2 separate regions of the Homo sapiens genome follow, and region 1 is linked to region 2. Evidence: fine-mapped expression QTL. A gene starts in region 2. The other region holds a variant in brackets. All regions are shown on one strand. Distances are between the middles of the regions.

What was found. PIP is the estimated chance that this variant, and not a neighbour inherited with it, causes the effect.
Region 1: its variant is fine-mapped to the expression of CD274 in tibial nerve (GTEx, PIP 0.96).

Annotation. Positions count from the first base shown.
Region 1 is chr9:5,487,808-5,503,726 of GRCh38, forward strand. All of the region lies in intron 2 of INCR1 (interferon stimulated noncoding RNA 1), which reads right to left. Among named protein-coding and RNA genes, the nearest start is that of PDCD1LG2, 15 kb to the right of the region's middle. RefSeq lists enhancers at 5,654-5,743, 5,954-6,203, 6,234-6,293, 14,080-14,581 and a silencer at 11,302-11,596. The variant C/T (reference allele first, on the strand shown) is at 7,712.
Region 2 is chr9:5,439,554-5,454,855 of GRCh38, forward strand. CD274 (CD274 molecule) reads left to right here and starts at 10,989. Exons shown (of 7, transcript NM_014143.4): 1 at 10,989-11,043. RefSeq lists enhancers at 10,766-10,815, 11,106-11,265.

The DNA of each region.
Region 1 (15,919 bases), 49 kb after region 2:
CAAGCATGTCAAGCCCGCAGATCCTGACAGTAAGCATGCCTTCCTGACTTGTGCCCGGGGAGAGGAGGCGACAGTGATTCTGACCTCTTCTTATTTCCCTCCCTTTCTAGCGCCACTTTCCTGAGCTTTTTTACTGTATGTTATGTATACCGTATGCTGTATGCTGTATGCTGTATGCTGTATCTAACAGCCCTTGTAAACAGCCTTAAATCCTTTCTAAACATCCTGGATAGTCCTAGAATCCTAGAATATGGATTCTTTCTTGGTTTCAAAACTGATTTCATTATATTGCATGGAAAGAAGAAATGTCTTTATTGTAGAGTGTTGGTATTTCTGGGTAGGTTGATTCAAAGATTAAGTTGTGAGGGCAGTTGGGACTTTTAGAGAAAGTGGATCTAGAAAATCTAAATTGTTACTAAGAAATATTGATGAATGTAGGTCATGGAGCTCAGAAAGAAGTATCTCTTTGATATTTTTCCTAAACTATGTGAAAGGGAAGCAATGGGAAATTTCGTGAACGGAGTCAGGAAAGCCTCAAGTTGGGTGGCTAGGAAGGGTAGAGGAGTTGCTATTAGGGAACCGAGGAGTGAATGTGGAGATGGTGAAGTGAGACAGGAGGCTGCTTCCTCAAAAGTCAGGACAGTTATGAGAATGCTCTGGTTTGAATGTCAAGATGTTACTGGAAATGAATAACTACAAATACACGCATGTTCATGCACACACACATACACAAACACATGAAGCTATTGAAAAGAATATGCAGCAAATGTGTTTTGTAAGTGAGCTAGTATCTAGTTGAAGTACCATGATCATCTTTAAAATCTCTTGCTAGAAGAGGAATGTTGACTGCCCAGTGTGGGTGTGGATAGGGAATGAATATCCTCGCTGTGGTATCCATAATTGAAATGCACTGTGCCTCATCTCCAGACCAGCCCTTACAGCAGTGCCAATCTCCTTCTTGTCCACTGCACAATAGCTCGCTGACTCTGCCTACTCTTTGGTCAGTTTCCCGGATATCCTTGTCTCTTCATTCTTAGTACATCACATCATTACTCAGGCCTCTTGCCTGGGCCCCTGGCAGCTTTAGGTACCTCATTCAGCGCAACTGTTTTCCTGTTTTCTTGAGCAGTGAGGTCATAATTTCATGACCTTGGATACACATTGCGTGAAGTAAAATGTTTATTAAGTCAGATGAATTAATAACATTTTCAGGAAGTTCATAATTGATGGAGACAAATTACATATGTACCATACATCAACACACACACACACAGAATGTGCACACTCAGGAGAGATTAATAGTGTGTATGTTTATTAGATATAAAGCAGCTGTAGCCTATGAAGAAAGGACAGAAGAAACAGCGAGGTACAGGAACTAGAGTCGACAAAGAAGAAAAGCAAAGATGCCCACATACATCCTACTTTTAATGCAAAGCTTGTCTCTGCTGGATAACATCACAAATCCCCCAACTAAAATCACCAATTGTTCTGTCCCTAAAGATATCTTTCTAGTTCTCAATCCCAGGCCAGGTGGGGCTCTATTTAACTCTCTTTTATTTAATCCACTTTTGATCACTCTTAGGAAGTTTCACTTTACTCAACAAGCTCAAGATTGATCACCCTTGACTTTATCTGTTTATCTTAGGAGTGTTTGGTTGAAGACAGAACCACAGATGCCCATTATTACTAGTATTATCATAACAATAAAGAGGAGCAATAGTAAATAAAGGAAACCCAGAGCCAGATTATCGGGACTTAAATCTGTTTTCCCACTTTTGTGATGTTTGACCTTCAGCAAATTATCTACCTTCTCTATGCCTCCGTTTCCCTATTCATAAAATGGAAACAATGAAAGTACCTACCTCGTAGGGTTTTTGTGAGAGTTAAATGGGTTCATACACATAAAGTACTTGGATCTGCCCTGGCAATATTTAGACCTCTGTGAATAGTAACCTGTATTACTGCGTTTCAGTTAGGAATGACTAAATGTTGCGGCAAACTGCACATTCTGTTGACCCTTCCTGGTCACTGCTCACCCATCCGAAGCCTGTGTAATACAATATTCAACTCTGAAACTGCATCTAAGGTGGCCAGGAAGGAAAGCTGGAGGGAAATGTGTAGACCAGCTGACCTCTATTTTAGGTTGAAGGTCCAGGCATTTCCTCCCCTTTCTCTACCTGTGAGAGGAGCCAACCAGAGCTGGCCAAGCCATGATGCAGCCCCTCGTGTGGCCATTTCCTTCCCAGCCTCTATTCATCTTTTACCACTCTCTAGCAGCAGAAGCTGGTGGGTTGTGGTTACCACTCTTGTTTGTTGCCCCACATCCCAGCTTCATTTTCTCAGGATCACTGCCAGGCAATAAGGAAAGTTTGGGGCCTGAAAAAATCTGCCCCAGGCCTGTGTAGAGCAAAATACCCTTGGACATTATACCCGCAGAAGGTTCCTCAAAATTATGTGACATTTTTCAGCTGATCGAACTTCCCTAACCTGACTTCCTGGAAAAGCCAAGAATTCAGAGAAAATGTAGGGCACTGACGAACCAATGAAGAGGTCAGTAAATTCTCCCGGAGTCCCCACTCAGGTCTGAAAAATGTTGTGTGAAACCTGTGGGTAGGGATAGCCTCCAAATATTTGCCCTCCCACAACTGTCCATAGGCCTAGTTGCCCTGCCATAGCTAGGTCCCAAATTGTTGCAAAAGCCATAAAGCCATATCCATGTAGATTCTGCCAAACCAGCTAACTGGCCAATCTGTTTTCCCACAACATGAGTTACCTTACTGGGATGTGCGTCTTCAGGTATATGCACTTGGATCCAGTTACAGCAAGTTACCCCAAGGAAATAATCAGACAAGGGCATAGAGCTGATTGTGAAGGGTCATTCATGGTGCCCATGGTTTTGTAATATCAACACTTACAAATTAGAAGCAACCTAAATTGCCATCACTAGGGGATGGCTTAAACAAACTATGGCATACCCATACAATAAAATATTTATCAGTCTTTATAAATAATCATGGGGTCTGTAATTACCAACATGGAAAAATGCCCATGATACCCTTGAAAAGTGATAAAACAGTTCACGGAATTACATTCTGATATAATGGTACTTATTAAAATTGCATTCTCCAGCCTGGGCGACAGAGCGAGACTCCGTCTCAAAAAAAAAAAAAAAAATTGCATTCATCAATGAGAACACTTGGACACAGGAAGGGGGACATCACACACTGGGGCCTGTCGTGGGGTGGGGGGAGGGGGGAGGGGTAGCATTAGGAGATATACCTAATGTAAATGACGAGTTAATGGGTGCAGCACACCTACATGGCACATGTATACATACGTAACAAACCTGCACGTTGTGCACATGCACCCTGGAACTTAAAGTATAATAATAATAATTAATTAATTAATTAAATTGCATTCATATGAATGGTACCTATTAAAATTGCATTGATATGCAATTTTAATAAGTACCATTATATCAGAATGTGTCCAGGGATCTACAGAAAATTATGTTCACAAAAATACTGACAGCAATTATCTCTGTGGTTGAGTATTTGGGTAATATTTACTGTTATTTTTTACTTTTTTTTGGTATTTAGAAAACACTTAGCAATGATACAATGTGCTATCTGAAAAAAACTAAACTTTTTAAAATATAAGTTTGAGGGGAAAATGAACTAAGTTAGTAATGTTTTGGGAATAAGATCATGGGTTGGCCACACCAAGCAGGTAATGGCACAAGGATAAGATAATTAACATTTATTAAGCACTTATTACATGCCAGCAGGCCCTGTTCTAAGCACTTTCCGTGTATCAACTCATTTCATTTGCACAACTCCACAAAGCAAGTCTTTTATGGTGCCCATTTTACAGATAATGAAATGAAACAGGCACCAAGAGAGGAAGCCGTTTGTTTGAAGTCTTACGGCTGGCAGGAGGTGAAACAGAGATTTAGACAGAGGTCTGCTTCCAAAATCTCTGAGCGTGACCCCTGTGCTCCCCTGCATAGGGCTGGCTTTCCTGCAGGGGAGGAGGGAAGGTGCTGAGGTCAGAGGAGGAGAGAGGAATGATGGAGGGAGTGGAGAGGGCAGAGGTGGCTGCTGACGATGGGGAACAAGACACTGTCCTCTTCCCCCTGCAGTTCCTGAAGGATCTTCATTCTCCCACTGGCCACCTGTTTACCTAACCCCTCTAAAGCCTCAGTTTCCTCTTTTGTAAAGTGAGGGAGCCTTCTCAGGCCATTCACCTTAATTAGTTCCTCTCTATGCCATATAAAGTCCTAGAAGCCAGTTCTGCTGTGGCACATATGCAGCCACCACCATCATCACCAGCATCCCACTTCCGGCTGAGAGACGCAGGCCCCGGTGTCTCCCAGTGTGCAAGTTGTCAGAGCAGGCTGGAAGAGAATTGGGCATTCTCTGTCTCTGCTGTAGAATGACCACCCTGAAGGATAATTCTGCTCACTTGTTATTCTCCTCACTGGACAGGAGACCCTGGAAGCAGAGACAATATCTGATGCACCTCTGCATTCCCACTACCTGGAACATAAAGTCGTTCAATAAATAAACATCCTCTGTTGAATGAATAACTGGAAAGTACAGCCATGTGGCCTTATGATTCCAGAGTAACAAGTAGGAAAAGCAACACTTGCATATTAATTTCTTTATTTTTTGTTTCTGTTTTCTACCTTATCTGGCACAGAGTTCAGAGTAGGTACAGTCATTAAAGAAGTCACTGATTTTTAACATGCCACTTAAGCAAAAGGAGCAAGAAGGCCCTATTTATGTTGATCAACTAATTCAAGAAATTCTGGGCTTTTGTTTTTTCTTTTCTTTTTTCTTTTTCTTTTTCTTTTTTTTTTTTTTTTTTTTTGAGACAGGGTTTCACTCCTGTTGCCCAGGCTGGAGTGCAATGGTGCGATCTTGGCTCACTGCAGCCTACCAGGCTCAAGAAATTCTCCTGCCTCAGCCTGCCGAGTAGCTGGGGCTACAGGCACATGCCACTGCACCCAGCTAATTTTTGTATTTTTTGTAGAGATAGGGTTTCACCATGCTGCCCAGGCTGGTCTTGAATTCCTGAGCTCAAATGATCTACCCACCTTGGCCATCCAAAGTGCTGGGATTACAGGTGTGAGCCACCACACCCAGCCAAATTCTAGGCTTTCTATGTAAATTATAAAATGTAATTTACAAAACTCTGTTCAGACATTTTATCACCAAGGCAGAGAGTGGTCAAATCACAGAGCTAGTAAGGAGTAGAACCAAATCCAGCTTCTCTGCCCTTGGTGTCAACTGCTTTTTCTACTTTCCACATAGCTCCACCCCTCCAGCCAGTCACAATGGTTTCTAAAAGTGGACCTGCCTTTGCAGTTATTCATTCAACAGAGGATGTTTATTTATTGAGCAACTTTATGTTTCAGGTAGTGGGAATGCAGAGGTGCACCAGATATTGTCTCTGCTTCCAGGGTCTCCTGTCCAGTGAGGAGAACAACAAGTGAGCAGAATTATCCCTCAAGGTGGTCTTTCTAAGCAGAGACCTGCCTTAATTCTGTTGCCTTAGGTGAGATCAACTTACTTCTGCATGCTTCCATTTCTCCTCCCCCTTGGTAGATTGAGAATCATGGTATCAGCTCTTCTTAGTGAAAGAAAATCTAAGAAACATAGACAGGTGTCCACATCTTGAAGTAGCTGAAGTTTGTCTTTGGGTTCTCAGCTTCCTTTTCTCCCTCTTGCTTACTTCCCTTCAAGGATTGCTGCCATCAGTGTCATCAAACCCAGGGATTCCCTAATGCTAATCCACCAATTAGAGCACGGCTGGTTACTACAGAACCACTGATGAGTTTCAAAAAATGCAGACTTCTGGACCCCACCCTTGGAGATTTTGAATCAGGAGGTCTTAGGTAGTGCCCAGGCACCTCTATGTTTCAGGTTCCCCAGGGGATTCTAACCTGCAGCCATATTGGGGAACCACTGACCTAACACGAAAACATGAGTCAGCTGTCTCAACTGTATTGAAAGTGATGAATCATCATTTCACTTTAAAAAGAAAAAAATATGAGCTGAAACCAAAGTCATTGTGAGAACCTTTCATTTCCTTTACCTGAGTTTGAATTCAGGTTTCCTTTACTTGAGTTTGAGTTTAGAAGTCTTCTATACTTGGTCCAAGCATTTTTACGGAGATTCCCAAGGTCTTAAGGCAAACAGACTTAAGACCTGTCCTCAGTTTAGTCCTGGGAACATGCTGTAACCCTGATCAGCCCTGGCTAGGGGGACCCTGGGAAACTGGCTGGCTCTGGAGATCCTTCAGGCCAGAGTTGCTGGGAACCACACCGGGTTCATCTTACACCATGCCTAGGTGCTGGGGTCCAATAGTCTTGTCTCCTCTGGCTTCCCAGAGCCAGAACTAGGAAGACGAGAAGGCTTTGGGATATGGCTGGCTTCCAGAGACTGAATCAGCAACTCATATTCTCAAGACCGAGGTGGGTAGGCCTGACACAGAAGGGTCAGGAGGCTGCTAGAATCTATGACAGGGCAGGAACAGCGCTGAGGCAGCAGAAACTGAGAAAGCAGAAGTCACCAGAAAGAGAAAAGAAGTTCAAAGTAGAGGGAAAGACTGAGGAAATAAGCAGGGTGAGTCGAACAGATGAGATGTGCAGAGAGAAGCAGATATGAGCTGAGGGAGAGAGACTCAATGAACCACGAGAGGTGGGCAAAGAAAGCAGCCAGTCCTGAGGTTACCTTGTTTCTGACAGTTTGGGTCCTGCCCATCCTTTCTTTTTTTTTTTTTTTTTTAAGTGATTGATTGTTGGTTGTTTTTTTTTATTATTATTATACTTTAAGCTCTAGGGTACATGTGCACAACGTGCAGGTTTGTTACATATGTATACATGTGCCATATTGGTGTGCTGCACCCATTAACTCATCATTAAACATTAGGTATATCTCCTCATGCTATCCCTCCCCCCTGTCCCCACCCCACAACAGGCCCCAGTGTGTGATGTTCCCCTTCATGTGTCCATGTGTTCTCATTGTTCAGTTCCCACCTATGAGCGAGAACATGCAGTGTTTGGTTTTTTGTCCTTGCAATAGTTTGCTGAGAATTATGGTTTCCAGCTTCATCCATGTCCCTACAAAGGACATGCACTCATCCTTTTTTATGGCTGCATAGTAGTCCATGGTGTATATGTGCCACATTTTCTTAATCTAGTCTATCATTGTTGGACATTTGGGTTGGTTCCAAGTCTTTGCTATTGTAAATAGTGCCATGATAAACGTACGTGTGCATGTGTCTTTATAGTAGCAAGATTTATAATCCTTTGGGTATATACCCAGTAATGGGATGGCTGGGTCAAATGGTATTTCTAGTTCTAGATCCTTAAGGAATAACCACACTGCCTTCCACAATGCTTGAACTAGTTTACAGTCCCAACAAAAGTGTAAAAGTGTTCCTATTTCTCCACATCCTCTCCAGCACCTGTTGTTTCCTGACTTTTTAATGATCGCCATTCTAACTGGTGTGAGATGATATCTCATTATGGTTTTGATTTGAATTTCTCTGATGGCCAGTGATGATGAGCATTTTTTCATGTGTCTTTTGGCTGCATAAATGTCTTCTTTTAAGAAGTGTCTGTTCATATCCTTCACCCACTTTTTGATGGGGTTGTTTTTTTCTTGTAAATTTGTTTGAGTTCATTGTAGATTCTGGATATTAG[C/T]CATTTGTCAGATGGGTAGATTGCAAAAATGTTCTCCCATTCTGTAGCTTGCCTGTTCACTCTGATGGTAGTTTCTTTTGCTGTGCAGAAGCTCTTTAGTTTTATTAGATCCCATTTGTCAATTTTGGCTTCTGTTGCCATTGCGTTTGGTGTTTTAGACATGAAGTCCTTGCCCATGCCTATGTCCTGAATGGTATTGCCTAGGTTTTCTTCTAGGGTTTTTATGGTTTTAGGTCTAACATTTAAGTCTTTCATCCATCTTGAATTAATTTTTGTAAAAGGTGTAAGGAAGGGATCCAGTTTCAGCCTTCTACATATGGCTAGCCAGTTTTCCCAGCACCATTTATTAAATAGGGAATCCTTTCCCCATTTCTTGTTCTTGTCAGGTTTGTCAAAGATCAGATAGTTGTAGATAGGCTGCATTATTTCTGAGGGCTGCCCATCCTTATATCACCAATTCAATTGAGGAGACTCGACCAAATGTTTTATTTTTCTAATAACTGTTGCCAGTAGTATTCTGGGAAATCCTTCTAGCCTGTTGGGCAGTGAGTGACCCTCATCATATATCAGTGCAATTTCATGATTTGTAGATCACTTATTATGACTCAGTCTAGTCCCATGTTTTCTAATAGCTTTTGAGATCTAATTCATATACCATGCAATTCACTCATTTAGAGCAGGGGTTCCCAAACCCTGGACTGTGAACCAGTACCCATCCATGGCCTGTTAGGAACTGGGCTGCACAGCAGGAGGTGAGCACCCAGCAAATGAGCATTACCACCTGAGCTCTACCTCCTGTCAGATCAGTGGCAGCATTAGATTCTCATAGCAGTGCAAATCCTGTTGTAAACTGAGCATGCAATGGATCTACGTTGCTTTTCTTATGAGAATCTAACTAATGCCTGATGATGTGAGGTGGAACAGTTTCATCCCAAAACCATTTCCACCACCCTTCCCACAATGCACGGAAAAATTGTCTACGACGAAACTGGTCCCTGGTGCCAAAAAGGTTGGGGATTGCTGATTTAGAGCATACCTTTCAGTGGTTTTTAGTATATGCACAGAGTTCTGCAACCAACAATATAATTAATTTTGAAATATTTTCATCATCCCAAAATGAAATCCCATCCCTCTAGCAGTCACCCCCTAGTTCCCCTCATTCCTCCCAGTCTTAAGTAATTATTTCCTGTCTCTATGGATTTGCCTATTCTGGACATTTCGTCTAAATGGAATCATACAATATATACAATCTTTTGTGACAGGCTTCTTTCACATAGCATAATGTTTTCAAGGTTCACACACACTGTATCACGTATCAGGACTGCATTCATTTCTAAAGCTGAGATATATTCCATTGTATGGACATACTGTTTTTTATTGTCTCATTCATCAGTCTCTGGACATCTGGTTTGTTTCCAATTTTTTGATACTAAGAATAATGCTTCTATGAACATTCATGCAGACATTTTTGTGTGTACATTTCATTTCTTTTGAAATATACCTAGGAGTAGAACACTGGGTCGCTATGTTTAACATTTTGAGGAAGTGACAGAGTTCATCTCATTTAAAATTCCAATCCCATATTTTACAAATATGAGATATTTTACAAATATCTCTCCTCCCAGAATAGGTGAAACTTATGACCCTGCAATCTTCAAGTTGGGCAGAGAAATGGCTCAGGTCTCAGGCGGTTGCAGTCTAAGGGTAGTGGCCTGTGATAATGGCTGGGGCCTCCCATGCCTTTGGCTTCCTTCTCTTCTGCATCACACGAAGCCATAGTAACTGTTGGGGTTTTTGGTCATCCTTGAGGACTCAGGAGCCTGGGATGTGAATGATATCCCCATTTTCTTCATTCCTGAAAATAAGTCTACAGCCCTTTTCACTCCCCGGGTGTGGGACACCCAGTGAACCTCCCATTTTCAGAAACTTCAGGCAAGAAGCAGGTATTAATCTCTATACAAGGCACTCTCAAACTTTGGAGATATGCGTTTAGCACCCCTTTTCTCTCCCCAAGAATGAGAGGAGACTCAGATAATATACATCCACTCTAGGCTCTCGGAACCTTCTCCCTGTCTCTTAGTCTCCTTCTTACTTGTCTTTGTTCAAGGCCAGTGGGCCAGTTTAATTTCTCTCCTCCTCCTCTCTTCTCTCCTCTCATTTCCTGCCCCCAACCCTGCACTTGAAAGACTCATTGAAGGAATTAGGCCTGACTTTATTTTTTTTACCATATTAACAAAACGATATTTCTTTTTGAAAAATTTATTTTTATTATTTTTAAAGACAGAGTCTTGCTCTGTCACCCTGGCTGGAGTGCAGTGGTGGAATCATAGTTCACTGCAACCTCAAACTCCTGGACTAAAATGATCCTCCCTCCTCAGCCTTTCAAGTAGCTGGGACTATAGGTGTGTGCCACCACTCCTGGCTTTTTAATTATTTTTTTAATTGACACATAAATAATTATATAGATTTATGGAGTAGAGTGTGCTATTTCGACACATGTCTAAGATGTATTATAATTAAATCATAGTAATTAGCATATCCATCATCTGAAACTTTTATTTCTTTGTGTTGGAAACACTCAAAATCCTCTCTTCTAGCTATTTGAAAATATAGAATACATTGTTGTTAACTGTAGTCACCCTACAGTGCTATAGAGGCCTTACTTAAATTTGACCTTTGTGAGTTCAGTAACTTTTCCTCAACAAGAAGCCATCTACCCAGTTATTTCTTCACTATTCAGTAACATGGGGCAGAAAAAAATACTTAATCAGTGCCCCACATCAATCTGTTACACTTATAATAAATCTCTTTTTATTTTGAAAAGTTCTTTTCTGTGAATGAGCCAAACCTAGACCTCTCTCCTTCTAAGAACAAACAAGTATTTCAGTTGCTCCGGCCAGAACTTCAATTCACACCTTTCCTTCTCTTACTTTGAGACCAGGCCTTTCTTAGCACATAGAGACCAGGTGGGACTGCAAGCCAAGTGTGGACTTTGAGGATGATGACCAGTGACTCACCTCCAGCCCCTGGCTGACCATGACACAAGGGAGGCCAATTTTCGGGCTGGCCCCCATGTGGTCTCCCTCCTCCTCCTCTCTTCCCCCAGCTGCTCATGACCTGCCTGCCCCACCCCAGAAATTCCTTGTCCCCATTTTCTTTTTCATTTGAGACAGAGTCTTGCTCTGTTGCCCAGGCTGGAGTGCAGTGGCACGATCTCAGCTCACTGCAACCTCCGCCTCCTGGGTTCAAGCAATTCTCCTGCCTCAGCCTCCCAAGTAGCTGGGATTACAGGTACCTGCCACCATGCCTGGCTAAGTTTTGTATTTTTTAGTAGGGATGGGGTTTCATCATGTTGGCCAGGCTGATCTCGAACTCCTGACCTCAGGTGATCTGCCTGCCTCGGCCTCCCAAATTGCTGGGATTTCAGGCGTGAGCCACCGTGCCCGGCCCCCTCTCCCCATTTTCAAGAGATTAAGCTGGTCTTCACCTGCTTCCTTCACATTCCAGATAAACTCACAGCAGATCCCTGCTTCCTGACTTTGGAAACGTTGCTAAAGCAGGTTCTAGATAAACTGCTGCCTCCTCATTTCTCACACCTTCCTTAGCTCTTGCTCTTTGCCTGTTTTCCCAAAATTCAAGTGCATTTCTTTCTCATCCTCAAGCTGTATTTTTTTCCCTTATAAAACCAAGCAGAGTGGGAAATACTGGACTTATTTTTTTGGACCTGAAAGCATTAACATTGATTTAGCACCTGCTGTATGACAAGCACTGTTCTAGGTGATTTACATGAATATTTACATCATGTCATATTACAATATATTACATTACATCGCATCACATCACATACATTGTATTGCATCATATTATATTACATTGAACTACATTTGCATTACACTGCATTTGGAGGAAAATATCTTGGGAGGAAAGGACAGAAATGGTTGTAGCATTTCTTACCTACTCTGCCCTACATTCACAGGGTGATCTTGGTTAAGCTCTGTAATCTCTCTTTGTATTAACTTTCCCTTCTATAAGATAGGAGGGGCCTCATAGATTGGCTGGTGACATAATTATTAAACTCATTATATTCTTATTATAGTCTAATAGTTTATGACCAAAATTCTAATTTTCTATTTCCAAGTGACAATGCAATGTTGAAGGGGGTGCCTAATTCTACACACAGACACACACACACAATTTAGCTATGCCTCTCAGGAATCTTCTATTAAAAAGAGAACAAAGCTAAATTAAATAAATTGCCAGCCAGGCATGGTGGCTGACACCCGTAATCCCAACAATTTGGGAGGCTGAGGTGGATGGATCACTTGAGCTCAGGAGTACAAGACTGTTAGGTTTTGAAGGGAAGGCGAGACTTAAAGAAAGACACACACACATAAGAGGGAAGTTCAACAACAAATGCAGACTTTATATCCAGCATAAAACCTACAGAAGTCAGAGACCAGTCTAATGCCAGTACCTGCTGCTGCTTATAGGCTGGGGCAATTTATAGGTATGGGCAGGAGGGGTCTGGGCAGTATGGCTTGCTGCCTGGCAGGAAATTGATAAGATGGTCCCATGATGAGGCAGTTCTGGTCCTTGTTCAGGCAGGATGTCATCATGGTGTTCCTTGGACCTTTGCCCAGAAGGTCTTTGCCTTCTAGTTTAGCATAAAAAGGAAGAGGGGCATTGTTAATTATCTGGCTGTTTCCTGCTAAATAGGAGCACTGCACTCAGGCTTTGGGTTTTCAGCAGTGGGTGTCCGACTTTAGAGTTGTTTTCCTGGAAGTGCTGATACCAAACTTGGCAGAGAAGAATGGTATCGTGTTTCTATATAGCTGCCTGGACAAGGGAGTTCGGCCTTTGGGAGATAAAGCGGGATATGAAGGTGCGCACACATGGGCCAATTGTCAGTATTATGAGGGAGAAAATTAGGGACCCTAAGACAGGGGTTACCCAAGGTATCCACTTTAGGAAGGATGACCCCTGCCAACAGTGAATGACTTGATGTTGGATTTCTGCAGCCGTGTAATGGAGCCTGTGGGCTGCGTTGCGAACAATGCCGGCTTCATTAACATAAAAACAGCATTCTTCTTGGACATATACACATGTGCCCCAAGACAAGAATGTTAATCCAAACTGCACCATTTTGTAAGCGCCCTGCTATTTTGCAGACCTTGGTAAAAGTGACACATTTCATGGGTTTTTGGGCCATGAGAAACACCCTGCCTAACCACTTGACCACAAGGCCCACAAAGGCCCAACTAAAGAAATATCTCTATCATATCCTTCTGGGCAAAGGTCCAAGGAACACCACGATGACATCCCGCCTGAACAAGGACCAGAACTGCCTCATGACGGGAACATCTTATCAATATCCTACCGGGCAGCAAGCCATACTGCCCAGACCCCTCCCGCCCATACCTATAAATTACCCCAGCCTGTAAGCAGCGGTAGGCACTGGCGTTAGGCTGGTCCCCGACTTCTACAGTGTGCATATTTCTTTAACCCTCGCCTTCCCTTCAAAACCTAACAGGGATCAGCCTGGGCAATATGGCAAAATGCCATCTCTGCAAAAAAATACGAAAATTAGCTGGGTGTGGTGGCGCATGGCTGTGGTTCCAGCTACTTGAGAGGCTGAAGTGGTAGGATCGCTTGAGCCCCGCAGGTTGAAGTTGCAGGCAGCCCTGATTATGCCACTGCACTCCAGCCTGAGTGACAGAGTCAGACCCTGTCTCAAATAAATAAATAAATAAAAATAAATTAGAAACACATACAGCCCTTTGTTGATTTCTTTAAATGTTTTCTTCTTGTTATTTTTCAGTAATCTAACTATACTCTCCATTATTGCTTTTAAAAAATTATTTCTGTCTTTACAAAAGTAATTTGTGCTCATGGCAGACTATTTAAAAAACAAAATGAAGCCAAAGAAAGAAAATAAAAATTAACTGCAGGAGAAGGAGGCAAGAGAGCTAACTAGATGCAGCCAGGAGAAACACCTCTCACAGAGATCTTCCCAGATTTTCAGAGGGAAGGCATCAAGAGTGGACAGAGGGAAGACACAGAGGCTGGGCTGAAGCAGGAGGAAGCTGAAAACCCTGCATGAGGCTACCACACACTGGGACTTGTTCCTGGCCCCCAACAACTCCTGCAGAAGGGATGAGTTGAACAGGCAAGGAGAAACATGCTCTTGCAATGGGTCTCTGGAATCACGACAGGAAGAGACCCCTCAACCACTGTGGACACTTGAGTTGGCAAGGAGAGCTGCTTAGAGAAGTGGTAGGGGCAGAGCTCCAGGTGATGTGGAGCCCAGTAGGTTTCGTGCGGGAGTGTTTGTGGTGGAGTACAGCCAGCGATGTCCATCTCCCTAGGCTCAACTTGCTTCCATAGGAGACTTTAGCACCAGGGGAGCTGTCGGTCCTAAATTCTGCAGGGCGGTGTTGCCCATGAGATAGGGCCAGTCTGACTTCAGCACCCTTTGGTCTGCTAGCCTTTCCCAGGGCCCCAGCCTGTCCATGCCTGCTTGCAGTGCAGCCACCAGGTACCTCCTGGGAGCCCACATCATAGCACCTGTGCTGGCAGACCATGCCAGACTGTCAGAGTGCTGCAGCAGAGTAGCCCCCATGGACACACACCAGCCCACCCAGCTCATCCCCTAACTACAGCCTCCCCCTTGTTGCTTTGCTTGCACACACTTGCCCACAGCCACCCTTCATATCACTTTGCCAGTACCTGCGTGTACAGGCAGACCTCACCTTCCCTTCCCCACCAGCATACGTGTGAGCGTGTGCCCTGCCATGCCACTGCTGCTGGTGTGAGTATATCCTGCCCCTCCTTTCCCTGCAGCACTGTCCACTGTGATGGCAATGGCATTGTCATCAGAGTGTTGTTGGGCATGGAGCTGCCAGCTCCGCCCCAGCCAGTCCCCAGCCCTGCCCCTATGCGAACACTGCCTATGGCACAAAACTAGGCACAAAAACCAGCAGGCCCACCCCTGCCCTGAGCGGCCAATGCCTCCCATGTGAATGTGCACAGGGGGCACACACAGCCCTGCATCTAGCAGCATCCTGCTCCCATGCTAATCCCAACACTGGCACAAACATGTGTACAGTTGCTGGTGAGGGCCCCCCAACCTGCCTGAGCCATGCTGCCACTGCTGCTTCTATGAACACCTGCACGAAGGCTGGCACTCCGGCATCCACTAGCACCTTGCTGCAGCCAACAAGTGTGCACCCCACTGCACCGCTGCTGCCACTGCGACTGGCACATGCGACTGAGGATGGATCATGTTTCCACAGCCCTACAAAGCACTTTGGCTGGCACCATGCCTCAGAGAGTTGTGATCAGAGGTCCAGGAGCACCTCAGGCCCCTCCAACATAGCAGGTTCCTAACCTTAAGGAGCCAGAGAACAAGACCGGGGCCTGATACCAGTGCCCCAGAGTTATAACACACAGTTTGGGAGTCCTGAGCTGAGACTTGGGCCCCTAAAATCTTCCAGAAATGAAGCCAGTCTACTGAACCCACCTTATACCACAATCAAACCCCGAAGGTCATTAAATATGATATAAAAAGGGGGAAAAAAAAACAAAAACAGCAACATCAAAGATTGAAGGAACATCATTCTACAAAGATGAGAAAGAACCAAGATAAGAACTCTAACAACTAAAAAGCCAGATGGTCTTCTTTCCTCCAAACAATCACACTAGTTCTCCAATAATGGTTCTTAACCAGGCTGAGATAGCTGAAATGACAGAAGTAGAATTCAGAATATTGATAAGAACAAAGATCATCGCAATTCAGGAGAACACTGAAACCCAATTTAAGGAAGCTAAGAATCACAATAAAACAATACAGGAGGTGACAGACAAAATAGCCAGTATAGAAAAGAATGTAACTAAACTGATAGAGCTGAAAAATATACTACAAGAATTTCATAATGCAATTGCAAGTATTAATAGCAGAATAGAACAAGCTGAGGAAAGAATCTCAGAGCTTGAAGACTGACTTTCTGAATTAAGACAGACAAGGAGACAGTCAGACAAGAACAGAGAAAAAAGAATAAAAAGGAACAAACAAAACCTTTAAGAAAAATGAGATTATGTAAACAGACCAAATCTATGACTTATTGGTGTCCTTGAAAGAGATGGGGAGAATGGGAGCAACCTGGAAAACATATTCCAGCATATCATTCATGAGAACTTCCCAACCTAGCT
Region 2 (15,302 bases):
GTGTTTGGTTTTTTGTCCTTGCGATAGTTTGCTGAGAATGATGGTTTCCAGCTTCATCCACGTCCCTACAAAGGACATGAACTCATCATTTTTTATGGCTGCATAGTATTCCAGCACACCATTTCTACAACCTTGGGTTTATTGTGTTTGGAAGCCTAGATCCAAAGGAAGGAATGCTGCCACTAGAAGACCCCGTCACTGAATTGAATTGAATTTCAATTCATTGATTCGAAAGCTGAAACTGCCCTCTGGTCACTTTGATTCCTCACAGTGACAGAATGGTATGATTCATCCCAAATACCAAAAGGAAATTGGGTTACATCTATATATTGAGGGCAAGAAGAACTATGCATGACACCTGGAGATTCACTGGGCACTTCTTAATACTGCCGTGTGCCATAATAATGATTATCAGATAACTGAAGTAATGCAGAAATTTCAGATCATGAAGAAATTAAAGTGTTGAAGCATACCAGATAAAAAAATCCTGATCTACCTAGGTGTTGGCATAGGGCAGGGGAAACATACATAAGTAAATGAGTAGGAAGCTATGATTATTAATTTTAGCCTTGCAACAAGCTCTAGAGGCAGGAATTATAGTAGCTCTCCATTTAAAATGTTAATTACTTCTTCCCTGACTCTCTTTTCCTATTACCCTGCATAAAGAGTAGTGGTGGAGATAAATATTACAATTTAGTTTCTGGGTGAGAATGTGCCTGAACTGACATCCCCTCAAGGCAATATGGCAGCTGATGAGGCTTGTTAAGGAAAATCAAAGCTGGACAATAGCTGTAGCAGTAAAAATAGATTTTTATTCAGCAACTTTTGAAATAGGGGGAAAGAGACCTTGGTAAAGAACTGGGCTCAATTCTGAATACAGTAAGGATAAGTGGGGATTTATAGCCGAGGAGCAGGTTGTGTGGATGGGGGTGGGGTCCGTGGATGGAAAATTACTAAGAAGAGACAGCAAGGGTAGGGGAAATCCTTGCTAAACTGACCTAACAGGATTCTTGCTAAAGGTAGGCCAGGGTAAGCAGACATCACCTGGGGGCTGGTGGGGGTAAGGAATTTGATCAGATATTGAGAGTGGTCAAACATTCAGGGTGGGAAGATCCTCTCTAAACTGACTTAGCAGGATTCTTGCCAACACTGATTCTGCAAGGATGAACACTGCAGCCCAAGGTCAATATCTAATCAAGGAGATGGCTTAGAGGAGCCTGACTAAAGTTTGGTCGAGGAGAAATCTTGTCAGACTCTGTCATTCTCATATGTAAGGGATGAGCTGCTCTTCATCTGAGCAAAGGAAAAGAATAAATTCTGGGTGACAAAACAATTAGACTGTCTAGGTTTTCTGTTTGCCTTCCATCATATTCATTCTCCTCACTTCCCTGCCCTGTTCTATACCCCAAAGCTGACCTCTTTGGACGGCACCACCTGGGCTCTCCTCAGCTGGTTTCCATTTGAGTTTGGACAGCGGGAGGCATTCAGGGAGATGGGAGGCAGGAGGAAAAAGACATCAGGGTATATTTTCTCTGTTCTTTCTCTGTTTGGGGCTGAGTATCTGGTGGTGGTTGTGTTTCTCCACAATTGCAGCTCTTGGCAAGCAGTCCCTTCTCCATGGCTCCAGCTCCATGGGCTCTGGAAACACTTTTCTCCTTTGCTATGTAGCCTAGAGAGAGCGCAGTCTTCCTGCTGTTGCTAGACTCTGGATGACTCAACTGGATGGTTCTCTTAGTCATACTCCTTTAAGTAGTGTCTTCACTAATATCTCTTTAATCAAACCAACTGAGTAAAATTCTGATTCCTGATGGATACATGTTAAACCGAAAACACACATTATAAATTTTCTTGTATGTATGATGTTTTTCATAATTTTAAAACATAAGTGAAAAAAGTGACCATAGAAAAATATGCCCAGGAAATTGAAAAAAAAAGTCTTGGTATAGATATTGGACACATTTTATAAAATGTGGAGTAAGAGGGTTAAAGGAAATTTATTTCAGAATCAAATGGCATATAACTTTAACTGGTATGTGAATTATTTTCAGTTGTATGAATTTGTGAATATATATGTGTACATTTTTATGCATATATATAAATATGTGTTTTATATCATCTTGCATTATAACATAAGGATTTTTATGTTGCTACATTGCATTTATATTTACCATTTTTAACAGCTAAAGGATTTTCAATAAGTGTGTATGTAACAACTTCCATTGCTGGATATTTCTCAGTATATATATGTATATATACATATGTGTGTATACATATATATATACATATGTGTATATATACATATGTATGTATATGTATATGTACGTATGTATGTGTATATATACATACATGTGTGTATACGCATATATACATATGTGTATATATACACGTATATACATGTGTGTATATATACACGTATATACGTGTGTATATACACACGTATATACATGTGTGTATATACATGTGTGTATATACACACGTATATACGTGTGTATATACACACGTATATACATGTGTGTATATACACACGTATATACATGTGTGTATATATACGTGTGTATATATATAAACACATATATATATGCACATGCATATGTATACACTGAGTTAAGTAGTATAAATATTTTAGAGAAAATTGATGTAAAATCCTCAACTCATTTGATGCTCCCTATCCCAGGACAGTAAAAATTGCCCAATATTTCCTTGGACCTCCATAAAGAAGCAGTTTTTCAAAAAATAAAGTGTTTGGAAGTTTAAGATGTGCCTAGCAGTGTCTCCTTTTAACAGAGATGCTTTCACAAGGATTTGAATTTCCCCATTGAGCTGGGAACCAGGTTTAGCCAAGAACTTCGGTCTGTGAAGGACTGCAAATAGTTGCACAGTGTGGGGCTGAGGCTAGAACCTCCTTAATATTAAACCATTCTGGGATGGTGCTCCCCAAATTCTGGATTTTAACCTTCACTCCAATCCTGGGGCACCTCTGTAGCTTGGGCATGACCTGGACACAAGCTTTGTGTAAGCCTTCTTTGGACTTCATCCATTCCTCAACGGTGACACCATGTGGCAGTGTAATATAATGGCATCAGTGGACTCAGATCCTGTTCTCTCCCTACCTAGAGATTTTTAAGATTAAGATATGTAATTCACAACCATAAAATGTACCACCTTAAATTGTACAATTTATTGGTTTTTCATACATTCAAAAAGTTGTACAACCACCACCATTATCTAATTCCATAACATTTTCTTCACCCTAGAAAGAAACCTCATACCTATTAGCAGCCACTCCCCAAACTCCCCATTCTCCCCATTCCCCCAGTTTCTGGGGACCCCTAACCTACTTTTTGTTTTTATAGATTTGCCTATTCTGGACATTTTATATAAATGGAAGCCTACAATCTATGGCCTTTTGTGTCTGGCTCCTTTTACTTAGTATGATCAAGGTTCATCCAAGTTGTAGCATGTACCAGTACTTCATTTCTTTTTATGTCTGATTAATGTTCCAATGTATGGATATACCACATTTTGTTTATCCATTCAAAATTGTGGGGCATTTGGATTGTTCCCATTTTTTTTGCTGTCATAAATAATGCTGCTAAGTTTTTGTATGAACGTATGTTTTCAATTCTCTTGGGTATATATGTAAAAGCAGAATTGCTGGGTCATATGGTAACTCTGCATTTAACTTTTTGGAGTTGAACAAATACACCATGCCAGCAGTGAATAAGGATGCTGATTTCACTATACCTTTGCACAATAGTTAAGAGCATAAACACTGGAACCAGATGTCTGGGTTCGAATCCCAGCTGTGCTATCTCCTAGCTGTGTCGTTTAGACAAGTTACTAAAGCTCTGTGCCTCAGTGTCCACATCTCTAAAATAGAGGCAATAATAGTACCTTCCTTACAGGATTGTTGTAAGATTTAAATGAGCTAATATGTGTAAATCACAAAAATAGGGTCTGACATTTTTTAAATGGTATATGTTTTACCATTGCTGCTATTTTAATCTTTATTATAATTATTGTGTTTTGTTTTGTTAATTTGATAGCTTTAAAAGGTAATGATACAGTTTATTGATGTTTGTTATGAAAAGGAGTAATTGGAGAAGATAAAAATGTAAGGGGTAATAAAGTCAAGGAAGGTTTTTTGAGCTGAAAATGATTATATTTCAGAGTGTAACCTGAATAAAACTGAGGCTTCACATGGCTCAGTCCATGCATGTAATAGCATTCTAAGAAAACATAAACTGAATGAAAACGTAAACTGTGAAGCATGAAGAATAATGAGGGTCTTCACCTTATGCTTTCTGAAGGAGTCCCCGCAAATGCTTCACACAGCATATTGAACAAGAAACTCCTAAAATCTTCTCTAGATATTTCTCTCTTTCCTATTTTTTCCCACTGACAGTAGCACCTTATATCTATCCTCCTCAACTGCGAGGTCACTACAGCACTATACTAAGCCCCTGTTAACTTCCTTCTCTTGAAACCCATGCAACTCACATGATCCTATTCTCAGCCTGTGAATCTCAGCCTCCTGCAATCCTGTGAAATTCAACTTGGTCTCCTACTCTGAATGTGTATAAAAATAACAGAGAACAGTTCCTGAACTCTGATGAGTAAAATGATCTACCTTATTACATGTGGTATTATAATAAATAAATATACATTAATTTCTTTCCCCATTTTCCAGCACACAGCTCCTAAAAGACTTGTAACTTCCTGAGTGATAGGTATGCTAGGTAAATTTTTTGTTCTATGTGACCTTCGACTCCAGTTCTTGACACAGAGCTCCTGATCCCTTGGAATTTCCATAGTGATAGGAGCATCTTTCATTCTCCTGAAGTAACTTGGTGGGCTTCTGGATGGGAGCTGGTCACAAGAATGACCAAGCCATGATTAGAAGCTTGGAACTTTCACCTCCTACCTCATCCTGTGAAAAGGGGAGAGGGGCTGAAGATTGAGGTAACAATTGCTGATGTGTACATGATGAAGTCCCCATAAAAATCCCTAAATGAGGGGATTTGGAGAGGTTCTGGAGGTGCTGAACGTGGAGGTGCTTGGAGGGTGGCCTATCCAGTTCATCTCCAGAGTTCACACACTCACCTAAGTGCTGATGCCCACCTGATGGCATTTCTCAGCCTCCGAGGCTTTCCTTCTTTGTACTTAGTCAAAAGAATGCTCTAATCCAGTCTATCATTGATGGGCATTTGGGTTGGTTCCAAGTCTTTGCTATTGTGAATAGTGCCGCAACAAACATACGTGTGCATGTGTCTTTATAGTAGCATGATTTATAATCCTTTGGGTATATACCCAGTAATGAGATCGCTGGGTCAAATGGTATTTCTAGTTCTAGATCCTTGAGGAATTACCACACTGTCTTCCACAATGCTTGAACTAGTTTACAGTCCCACCAACAGTGTAAAAGTGTTCCTATTTCTCCACATCCTCTCCAGCACCTGTTGTTTCCTGACTTTTTAATGATCGCCATTCTAACTGGTGTGAGATGGTATCTCATTGTGGTTTTGATTTGCATTTGTCTGATGGCCAGTGATGATGAGCATTTTTTCATGTGTCTGTTGGCTACATAAATGTCCTCTTTTGAGAAATGTCTGTTCATATCCTTCGCCCACTTTGTGATGGGATTGTTTTTCTCTTGTAAATTTGTTTGAGTTCTTTGTAGATTCTGGATATTAGCCCTTTGTCAGATGAGTAGATAGATTAAGGAAATATGGCACATATACACCATGGAATACTATGCAGCCATAAAAAAGGATGAGTTCATGTTCTTTGTAAGGACATGGATGAAGCTGGAAACCATCATTCTCAGCAAACTATTGCAAAAACAAAAAACCAAACACCGCGTGTTCTCACTCATAGGTGGGAATTGAATAATGAGAACACTTGGACACATGGTGGGGAACATCACACACTGGAACCTGTCGTGGGGTTGGGGGAGGGGGGAGGGAAAGCATTAGGAGATATACCTAATGTAAATGACGAGTTAATGGGTGCAGCACACCAACATGGCACATGTATACATATGTAACAAACCTGTACGTTGTGCACATGCACCCTAGAACTTAAAGTATAATAAAAAAAAAGAATTCTCTAATCCATGGAATAAGTGTTGAATAATGAAATTCTGATATTGTGTTTAATGATATACTGCACTATTCAGAATATTTGTACTTACCTTCGAGTCTCTCTTCTAAAAGATGCCAAACCCCCTTACACGAAGTAGAAAACGTCAAATATCTAAATATTGTATCTTAATAATGTTCAAACATTAAATGTTTCAAATATTCCAATGTTTAGAATCATAAAAAAAAAACATAAGAATTGTTTTAAAAAAATGCTCTAAACTTAACCCACAGCCCTTCTTGTGAATTTCTCCAAAATAACTGGAGCCTGGTTAATAGCAAGCCTCAGGAGCATGGCTTTGAAATACTGTCAACATACTGCCACCAATTTCTCCATTTCCAGAAAAGACTGTAATTTTTTCTTTAGAAATCATGATTTTCTTGATTGGTTTAGACTGGTTTCCAGTAGTTCACTTACCAGGAAAGTTTCTGTTTTGTTTTTAGACTTCCTTAATTTAGAGAATGCACATAATATTGAAACTGGCTATAGTATCCTACTCTGGAAAAGCATATTAAATACATACAAATATATATTTAATGTATATAAATACAAATATATATGTAATGTATATAAATATATACAAATATATGTGTGTGTGAGTATGTATCTTCCTTGATTTCCTTTTATCCATTACCACTAATATCCCTCAATAAGTCCTACTGGTTCTACTTCCAAATTATATTTTGAACATGCTCTACAGAAACAGCTCCTAAAGATTTTCCAGCCTCCATGAATGTAAGTCCCCTCCATATTCCATTCTTCGTACCACAGCTAGAGTGGTATTTTTAGAACATTCATCAGGCAACTACCCTGCTCTAAGCCATCTGGTGGCTTTTCATTGCAAGTAGAATGCAACCTCTCCCCTAGTCCTCAAGGCTCTTCATGATATGATTTGACCCTCCCATCCCTCTTCCTCACTCTCTACCCACAATTCTCTTCTTTTCATCCTTGGAACTTGCCAAGCTTGTTCCACCCGTATAGTCTTTGTACCTGTCTCTTCCCATGGCCAAATATGCTCTTTTGGCAGATCTTTCCATGGTTATCTTCATGATTCATTTCTCAGATATCACCTCTTACACATTTCCTGACCACCATAACTAAAGGAACCTCACACCTGTGCACTATACCATATTGCTCTGACTTGTCTTCTTTTTTCTTGTATAGGACTTTTCGGTATCTGAAATTTTTATTTATTAATTTCTGTTTGGAACATATCTCTCTCAGAGCAGAAAGGTCTTGCTGTCCTTTCAAGGAAATGGTGGGGAAAAGAAAAATTCTCATTCTTTTATGATGAGCCTACAAAAATAAATGGGTTAAATGGGTTCTTGATCCAGTTCACCTTAAGTGTGGTTACCAAAGGAAATGATTCACAAGGTGACTATTTCATTTGTGTGACACTCACTTATGTTATTAGTTCTAGGATATTAAATCAAGAAATATTTTCTAGGATCCCCTGAAAGAGTATCTCTCAATTGTAAACTTTATCTTTAGTGGCATTTTGTTGATTTATTGAGATTCCCTAGATTTAAAATATTTACCACAGAGTGTTCCCCAACTCCCACAGCATTTATCCAGGCCATAACTACTTATGTCTGGATTTATGAACTTATTGTGGGTGGGGGAAATTGTTGGAGGTCTCATCTTTGTTTTAAAGTACCTGTGGCATGGGGTCTGCCCTTTGAAGGCAAGAGCTCTTCACCTGCCCAGCTCTTCCCCAGCTTAGGACAGGAAGGAGAGAGACACAGTGTGAGCGAGAGAAGCATCTGATTGTGAGTGTCAGATGAGGACAGCTGCTACTCTCTGGTCACCCATACATGTTAATTACCCCTGTCATTTAAACCATTGTTTTGTGTAACTAGAACAAAGTATTCTTTCCACGAAGTCTGTTTGACACGAGACACATATAGGATGTGAGTCTATGACAAGGGTAGGGGCAACAAATGTGAGGGGTTGGATGGAAACAGAGGAAGAGAAATGAGCATTGCATAGGGCAGTGGTTTAAAACCCTACATGATCAAAAATAGAACCTGGAGACAAATCTTGATATTGTCTTTATACATAATAAAATGCATTTTAAAATATTCGATGCAAACAAAGCAGTTTGTCATGTCTTTTGTTTTGAGTCTCTTTAGTATATGCTGCTTTTGAAGATCAAGAACATTTACTGGAAATTGCTCCTTCACCAGGAATTTGCTCACATCTCTTCAGGTCCACTTATAAGATCTTGAAATCAGTCCTCCTGAGATCAGTACAAACGAGGATCATCTCTCCTGCTTTAGAAGCAAAAGTGGCAAGCAGGGTAGACAGAGGCAGAAGGAAGGATGGTACTGATAAATCAGCCAAATTAGATGGAAGAAAGCGAATTACAGCTGTACTTGCAAAGAACTCTTGGCTCATTTTTTCCCTTAAATATTAAATCACTAGTTTTCAAAACTTCAAATGTGAACATGACTCACCTGAGGACAATGTTAAAATGTTGACCTCCAAGACCCTGCCCCCAAGTTTGGATCCCAGGCAGAACCCTGGAATCTGTATTTTAAACATTAACCCCAAGTCGAGTGTAATGCAAGTAACCATCAGAGACACTCTGAGAAACAGCACATTGGCAATGATGAATTTATATGTCTAAAAATGAATAGAGTAGATGTTACATGAATAGGAAGTGGTGGTATTCAAGATGACCATAGTATCTAGCTCTTCAGCCCTGGCTCCCCACTGCTCTTCTCCCATCTCAGCACTTCTCCATCTATTTCGTCCAAATAAAAAAATTCACACAGAGTTTCAGGACTTAACCCCCCACTCATTAACCATCTGTTTTGCTTTACATATTTTTCTGAGGTAATAAAATTTCTCTTTTTCTAAACACAGCCTGTTTTTCAATCTCCGGGTAGTTGATCAATTGTATGGGAAAATGAATGGCTGAAGGGTAGAAACAGGTGGGAAAGATGAACAAAAACACGAATCCTCACATTACTAATACGCAAATCACTGAGCAGCAAGCTGAGCAAATACCCTCAATTCCCATCAGCAACTTTAGAGAAAGGCAAATTCCGTTTGCCTCATTGATCATTTAGGTAGACCCTGAACACTGCTTTCATAAAACAAAAACAAAATACCCATCCCCAGTTTAAAAAATTATTCATAGATCATCCAGGCCATCTAGGAGGATATGATTTAATCCTGGCTACTTGGTAAATTATTTGCCCAAGTTAACTCAGCTAGTTAGTGGTAGATGGCTCTGAAGCCAGTTGTTTTTTTTTGTTTTGTTTTTTGCAGACCTCAAGAGTCATGATGAACTAGCAGATCATAAAGTTTATGCCCTGGGTCTTGACCATTTTTAGAAAAATAAAACATTAAATGAAAATATCAGAGGGCATTGCAGATAGTAGATCTAAGTATTTTTTCATGAAACTTGTTGTACATGTGTGTGTCATACACAGACTATATATATGCAGTACCTGTAAACTGTATTGCCACATAATGTCTATATTTTCCTAGAGGTCACAGTCACCAAAGTTGGGAAGTCACCCAACTTCGGGAACTTTGGGAAGTCACCCAAACTTACAGTCACCAAAATTGCTCTATTCTACTATGTGACCTCAAAAGTGATTTGAAAGAAGGAACATCTGAGCTGGGCCCAAACCCTATTGCAATTTTATTGGGGCCAAAGAGAACTCCATGCTCCTGCCAAATCAAGGCAGTGTCAGCCTCAATAATTTCCCAGATAAAAATAAAAATCTGTGATACAATCAGAATGTGAAAATTCTTATTTTGGAAGCAAATGTCATAACCAATGCAAGGGCTATCTCAATATTCATTCATTATGCAGTATTTTGAACTGCAGTTGAAATGAATAAGAAGGAAAGGCAAACAACGAAGAGTCCAATTTCTCAATTTAGAAAAAGAGAAAAAAAAGAAAAGGGAGCACACAGGCACGGTGGCTCAAGCCTGTAATATCAGCACTTTGGCGGATCACTTGAGGTCAAGGAGTTCGAGAAAAGAGAGCACCTAGAAGTTCAGCGCGGGATAATACTTAAGTAAATTATGACACCATCGTCTGTCATCTTGGGCCCATTCACTAACCCAAAGCTTTCAAAAGGGCTTTCTTAACCCTCACCTAGAATAGGCTTCCGCAGCCTTAATCCTTAGGGTGGCAGAATATCAGGGACCCTGAGCATTCTTAAAAGATGTAGCTCGGGATGGGAAGTTCTTTTAATGACAAAGCAAATGAAGTTTCATTATGTCGAGGAACTTTGAGGAAGTCACAGAATCCACGATTTAAAAATATATTTCCTATTATACACCCATACACACACACACACACCTACTTTCTAGAATAAAAACCAAAGCCATATGGGTCTGCTGCTGACTTTTTATATGTTGTAGAGTTATATCAAGTTATGTCAAGATGTTCAGTCACCTTGAAGAGGCTTTTATCAGAAAGGGGGACGCCTTTCTGATAAAGGTTAAGGGGTAACCTTAAGCTCTTACCCCTCTGAAGGTAAAATCAAGGTGCGTTCAGATGTTGGCTTGTTGTAAATTTCTTTTTTTATTAATAACATACTAAATGTGGATTTGCTTTAATCTTCGAAACTCTTCCCGGTGAAAATCTCATTTACAAGAAAACTGGACTGACATGTTTCACTTTCTGTTTCATTTCTATACACAGCTTTATTCCTAGGACACCAACACTAGATACCTAAACTGAAAGCTTCCGCCGATTTCACCGAAGGTCAGGAAAGTCCAACGCCCGGCAAACTGGATTTGCTGCCTTGGGCAGAGGTGGGCGGGACCCCGCCTCCGGGCCTGGCGCAACGCTGAGCAGCTGGCGCGTCCCGCGCGGCCCCAGTTCTGCGCAGCTTCCCGAGGCTCCGCACCAGCCGCGCTTCTGTCCGCCTGCAGGTAGGGAGCGTTGTTCCTCCGCGGGTGCCCACGGCCCAGTATCTCTGGCTAGCTCGCTGGGCACTTTAGGACGGAGGGTCTCTACACCCTTTCTTTGGGATGGAGAGAGGAGAAGGGAAAGGGAACGCGATGGTCTAGGGGGCAGTAGAGCCAATTACCTGTTGGGGTTAATAAGAACAGGCAATGCATCTGGCCTTCCTCCAGGCGCGATTCAGTTTTGCTCTAAAAATAATTTATACCTCTAAAAATAAATAAGATAGGTAGTATAGGATAGGTAGTCATTCTTATGCGACTGTGTGTTCAGAATATAGCTCTGATGCTAGGCTGGAGGTCTGGACACGGGTCCAAGTCCACCGCCAGCTGCTTGCTAGTAACATGACTTGTGTAAGTTATCCCAGCTGCAGCATCTAAGTAAGTCTCTTCCTGCGCTAAGCAGGTCCAGGATCCCTGAACGGAATTTATTTGCTCTGTCCATTCTGAGAACCCAAAGGAGTCCTAAAAGAGGAATGGAGGAGCCTAAGAATAAAAATAGTATAATAAAACATTTCTTAGACACATTGACCTTGGCCTATGTCAAAGTTCAGTCTGGGTTTGTCTTATAACACAAGGAGTAAAAGTACCATTGTTCTACCTCTTTTTTTAATACTTGAAAAAAATTTACTGTGGATGCTTTTCTATGAATTAAATAACCTTCTAAAAAATGTTTTCATTGCTGCATTCGATTAGATTGGGTAACTAAATGAAATTAATTCCTCACTGTTGGGTATAAAGGTTATTTACAGTGGTTCTGTCTTAGCCATTCACTGAACTCATTGCATATATATCTCTGGAATATTGCTGATTGTTTCCTTCAAGTAAACTTAGAAGTGTAACTACTTAGTCAAAGAGCCTGAATATTTTAAAGGCCTTTTGAAGAAAACTGAAAATGCTTTCCAGAAAGGATGTATCAGTTGACAATGACAGTCGTCAACAGTATTTAAGGAGAACTATGATACTCTGAAGAAAAACTTAGCCTTTCTCAGTAAAAGTAGGTAGGCAGAGGCCACATGACAGCAGTTAGAGTGTGGTCTTCAAGGAAGTCACAGAAATACTGTGGGGAATTGAAACCCCATGTGGAAAATGTACAAGAGTGTCTCAGTGTGACTGAGAAGGAGGTTGGGCATGGGGTTTCATGGAGTTTAATAAAGTTTGGTCACTTAGTAGAGGTTTAATAAATCAACTGTCTTAATCTTTGATCCTACTTAAGAATTTTTTTTTTGTTTTTGTAGAGATGGGGCTCTTGTTATGTTGCCCAGGCTGTTCTCGAACTCCTAGCCTCAGGCGATCCTCCCTCCTCAGGCTCCAGAAGTCCTGGGATTACTGGCGGGAGCCACCATGCAGGCCTCTTGCTCCTACTTTTGAGAAAGGAAGTTTAACCGGTTTTTTTTGTCTTTTTTTTTTTTTTTTTGAGACAGAGTCTCACTCTGTTGCCCATGCTGGAGTGCAGTGGTGCAATCTCAGCTCACTGCCTCCCGGGTTCAAGTGATTCTCCTGCCTCAGCCTCCCGAGTAGCTGGGACTACAGGCACCTGCCACCACGCCCAGCTAATTTTTGTATTTTTAGTAGAAATGGGGTTTCACCATATTGGCCAGGCTGATCTCGAACTCCTGACCTCAGGTGATCCGCCTGCCTCGGCCTCCCAAAGTGCTGGGATTACAGGCATGAGCCACTGCTCCTGGCTGCTTAACTTTTTCTCTATCTCATCCTCCTACCCATCCTACCCTTGGAAGATAGAGAAGTAGTATTAGTTCCATAGTGTTATACTGGGCTTCCCCCAGGGACAAACCCACTTCCCCAACCTGAATGAGCCATCACTTCTTCCCCAGTTTACATTTCATTGCTCTTTAAATGTCTCCATTCGGATATGGGAATTCACATATGGTCATAATTCTTACCTGAAGAAGATGTCAGTCTTCTTCTCTTAGACCAACTGCCCTGATATGAGGTTTAGAGGTTAAAGAACATGTGTGTATTTACATGATCTTTGTATTCTGCCTTTTCGTCCCTCACTAATGACAGCTGCACCCCAAGGAAATGGAGCTGTGGAAGAGAGGGTTTGATAAGAAATTAAGTAAATATTGGATCTAATCCATCACCCTCCAGGAAGCCTTTATTACTCCTAAAAATTTCAACCAAATTCATTAAAGGACAAGAACTCCACCAGAGTAGGCCATAAACATTGGCAAAATTAGTTGTAATCCATGACTAGATTTAATGTCCCTTTGTTTTATTCCCATATGGTTATAATGCTTTGCTTGGCATTAGGGGTATTTTAAGTTTTCTTCTGCCTAGTAAGTGAATTTGTGTTTATAATACAATAATCATAAAATATCACATTAATATTTTATAACTGTACAGTTATAAAATATTTTATAAGTAATATTTATATTTTATAAGTAATATTTTATAACTGTACAGTTAACTCTGGCCCAAGGAAAAGATAGTCTGATAGATGCTGCAGCCCCATTTTAGCAAATGTGACCTCACAGGCCTGAATGCCATCGCTATTCCACATCTACAGGATAGACGGAAAGGAAAGAAATAAAAAAATAGGTACCTAACACTGGCAAGAGGATGATGACTCATGTTATTTCACTTAACCTTTTTATCTTTTAACATGAAGGACTCATACAGGTTGATAAGAAACCAGTGACATAAACAGACCAAAAAATGATCAGATCTTTCAAATTAGCAAAAAAATAATATTTTTTAAACAATGGGTGAAAATACAGTGTAACAGTACCAATTATCAACATGTGTTGAGAACCAGAAAAATGTTCTTTTTCTTTGATCAGCAACACTATTTGGGAAAATCTATCCTCAGGGCCTAGCCTGGGGCCCTGGCACACAGTAGGCACTCAACGAATATTTGCTGAACACACAAATACTTATGATATTTTAAAAAATTGGCAACAATCTGATACCTAACAATAGAGGGATTAAATATTATGGAACTGTTAAATAAGATGCTTATGAATACCATGCAGTAAGATGGGCAATATTTATGCCATAAGCTTTAATGAAACAAATGGGTATTAAATGTATGATAAGGTTATAAATTACTTTTTAAAAGATTACAGGGAAAAAAATTGAAAGATATACACTGAAATGTTTTTTGCTCACAGTGGTGACAAGGTTTCTCAGCACTGGCACTGTTGACGTTTTAGGCTGTATGTCTTTGCTGTGGGAGGCTGGCCTGTGCACTGCAGGGTGTTTGGCAGCACTCTTGGCCTCTGCCCCTAGATAGCAATAGCAGTCCTCCCTCAACCAGCCCAATTTTGACAACCAAAAATGTTTCCAGGCATCACCAGATGCTCCCTGGGTGAGAGTGATGAAATAGTAGGGGATTTTCCCCTTCTTTTCTTATTTTCTGTAATTCCATTATATTACTTTAATAATAAAGAAAAAAACATAAAAAATAAACGAATGTTATTATTCTACGTCAGTTTGGATGTTTGGACTCCATTTTGGGGTTCTTTCCATTATATCACTTGGTCTGCTAAACATTCTACGGTTTGGTAAGGTGAAGTGATTCATGAAATTTTGGTTTTATTTTTTTCCTGATACTAAAAATAAAACATTCTTTCACTTGGAAATTTGGACACAGAACACCAAAAAAAATCCATAATCTCATCTCTCTTTTTCTGTCTTTTCCTTCCTTTTTTCCCTTTAAAAACAATAAAGAGTGAAACCTACCTGTTCTCCCTCTAATTTAATTCCTAAATATAATCACTGTCAATATCTTGGACATTTCCTGTGTCTAAACACACACACACACTTTTTTTTTTCAGCAAAAGTGGATTTCTGCTACATGTAGTGTTCTGCAACTTACTTTCTATGTGTTTACAAAATCAGTACATGTACATATGCTGAATTCAGTCCTTAATGGTATTATATTTTGTGAATATACCAAAATTTGTTTAACCACTTAGACAATCTAGGATATTCTCAGTTTGCTGTTATGAGCAATGCTCTTCCTTTACATATACAGACATATATATATATATGTGTGTGTGTGTGTTTTTGTTTTAGTAGGATAGATTTCTAGGAGAGGGTGAAAGGTCTTATGACATCCGCATTTACGATTGTAATAGGAAGTATCAAAGTGCCCCCTAAAGAAAAAAATCCTCCCATTAGTGGGTAAGAAAGCCTATTTGTTCATATCTTCACAAACACTAAATATTAGAAATATTTACAATTGTGGTCAAGCTCATAAGTGA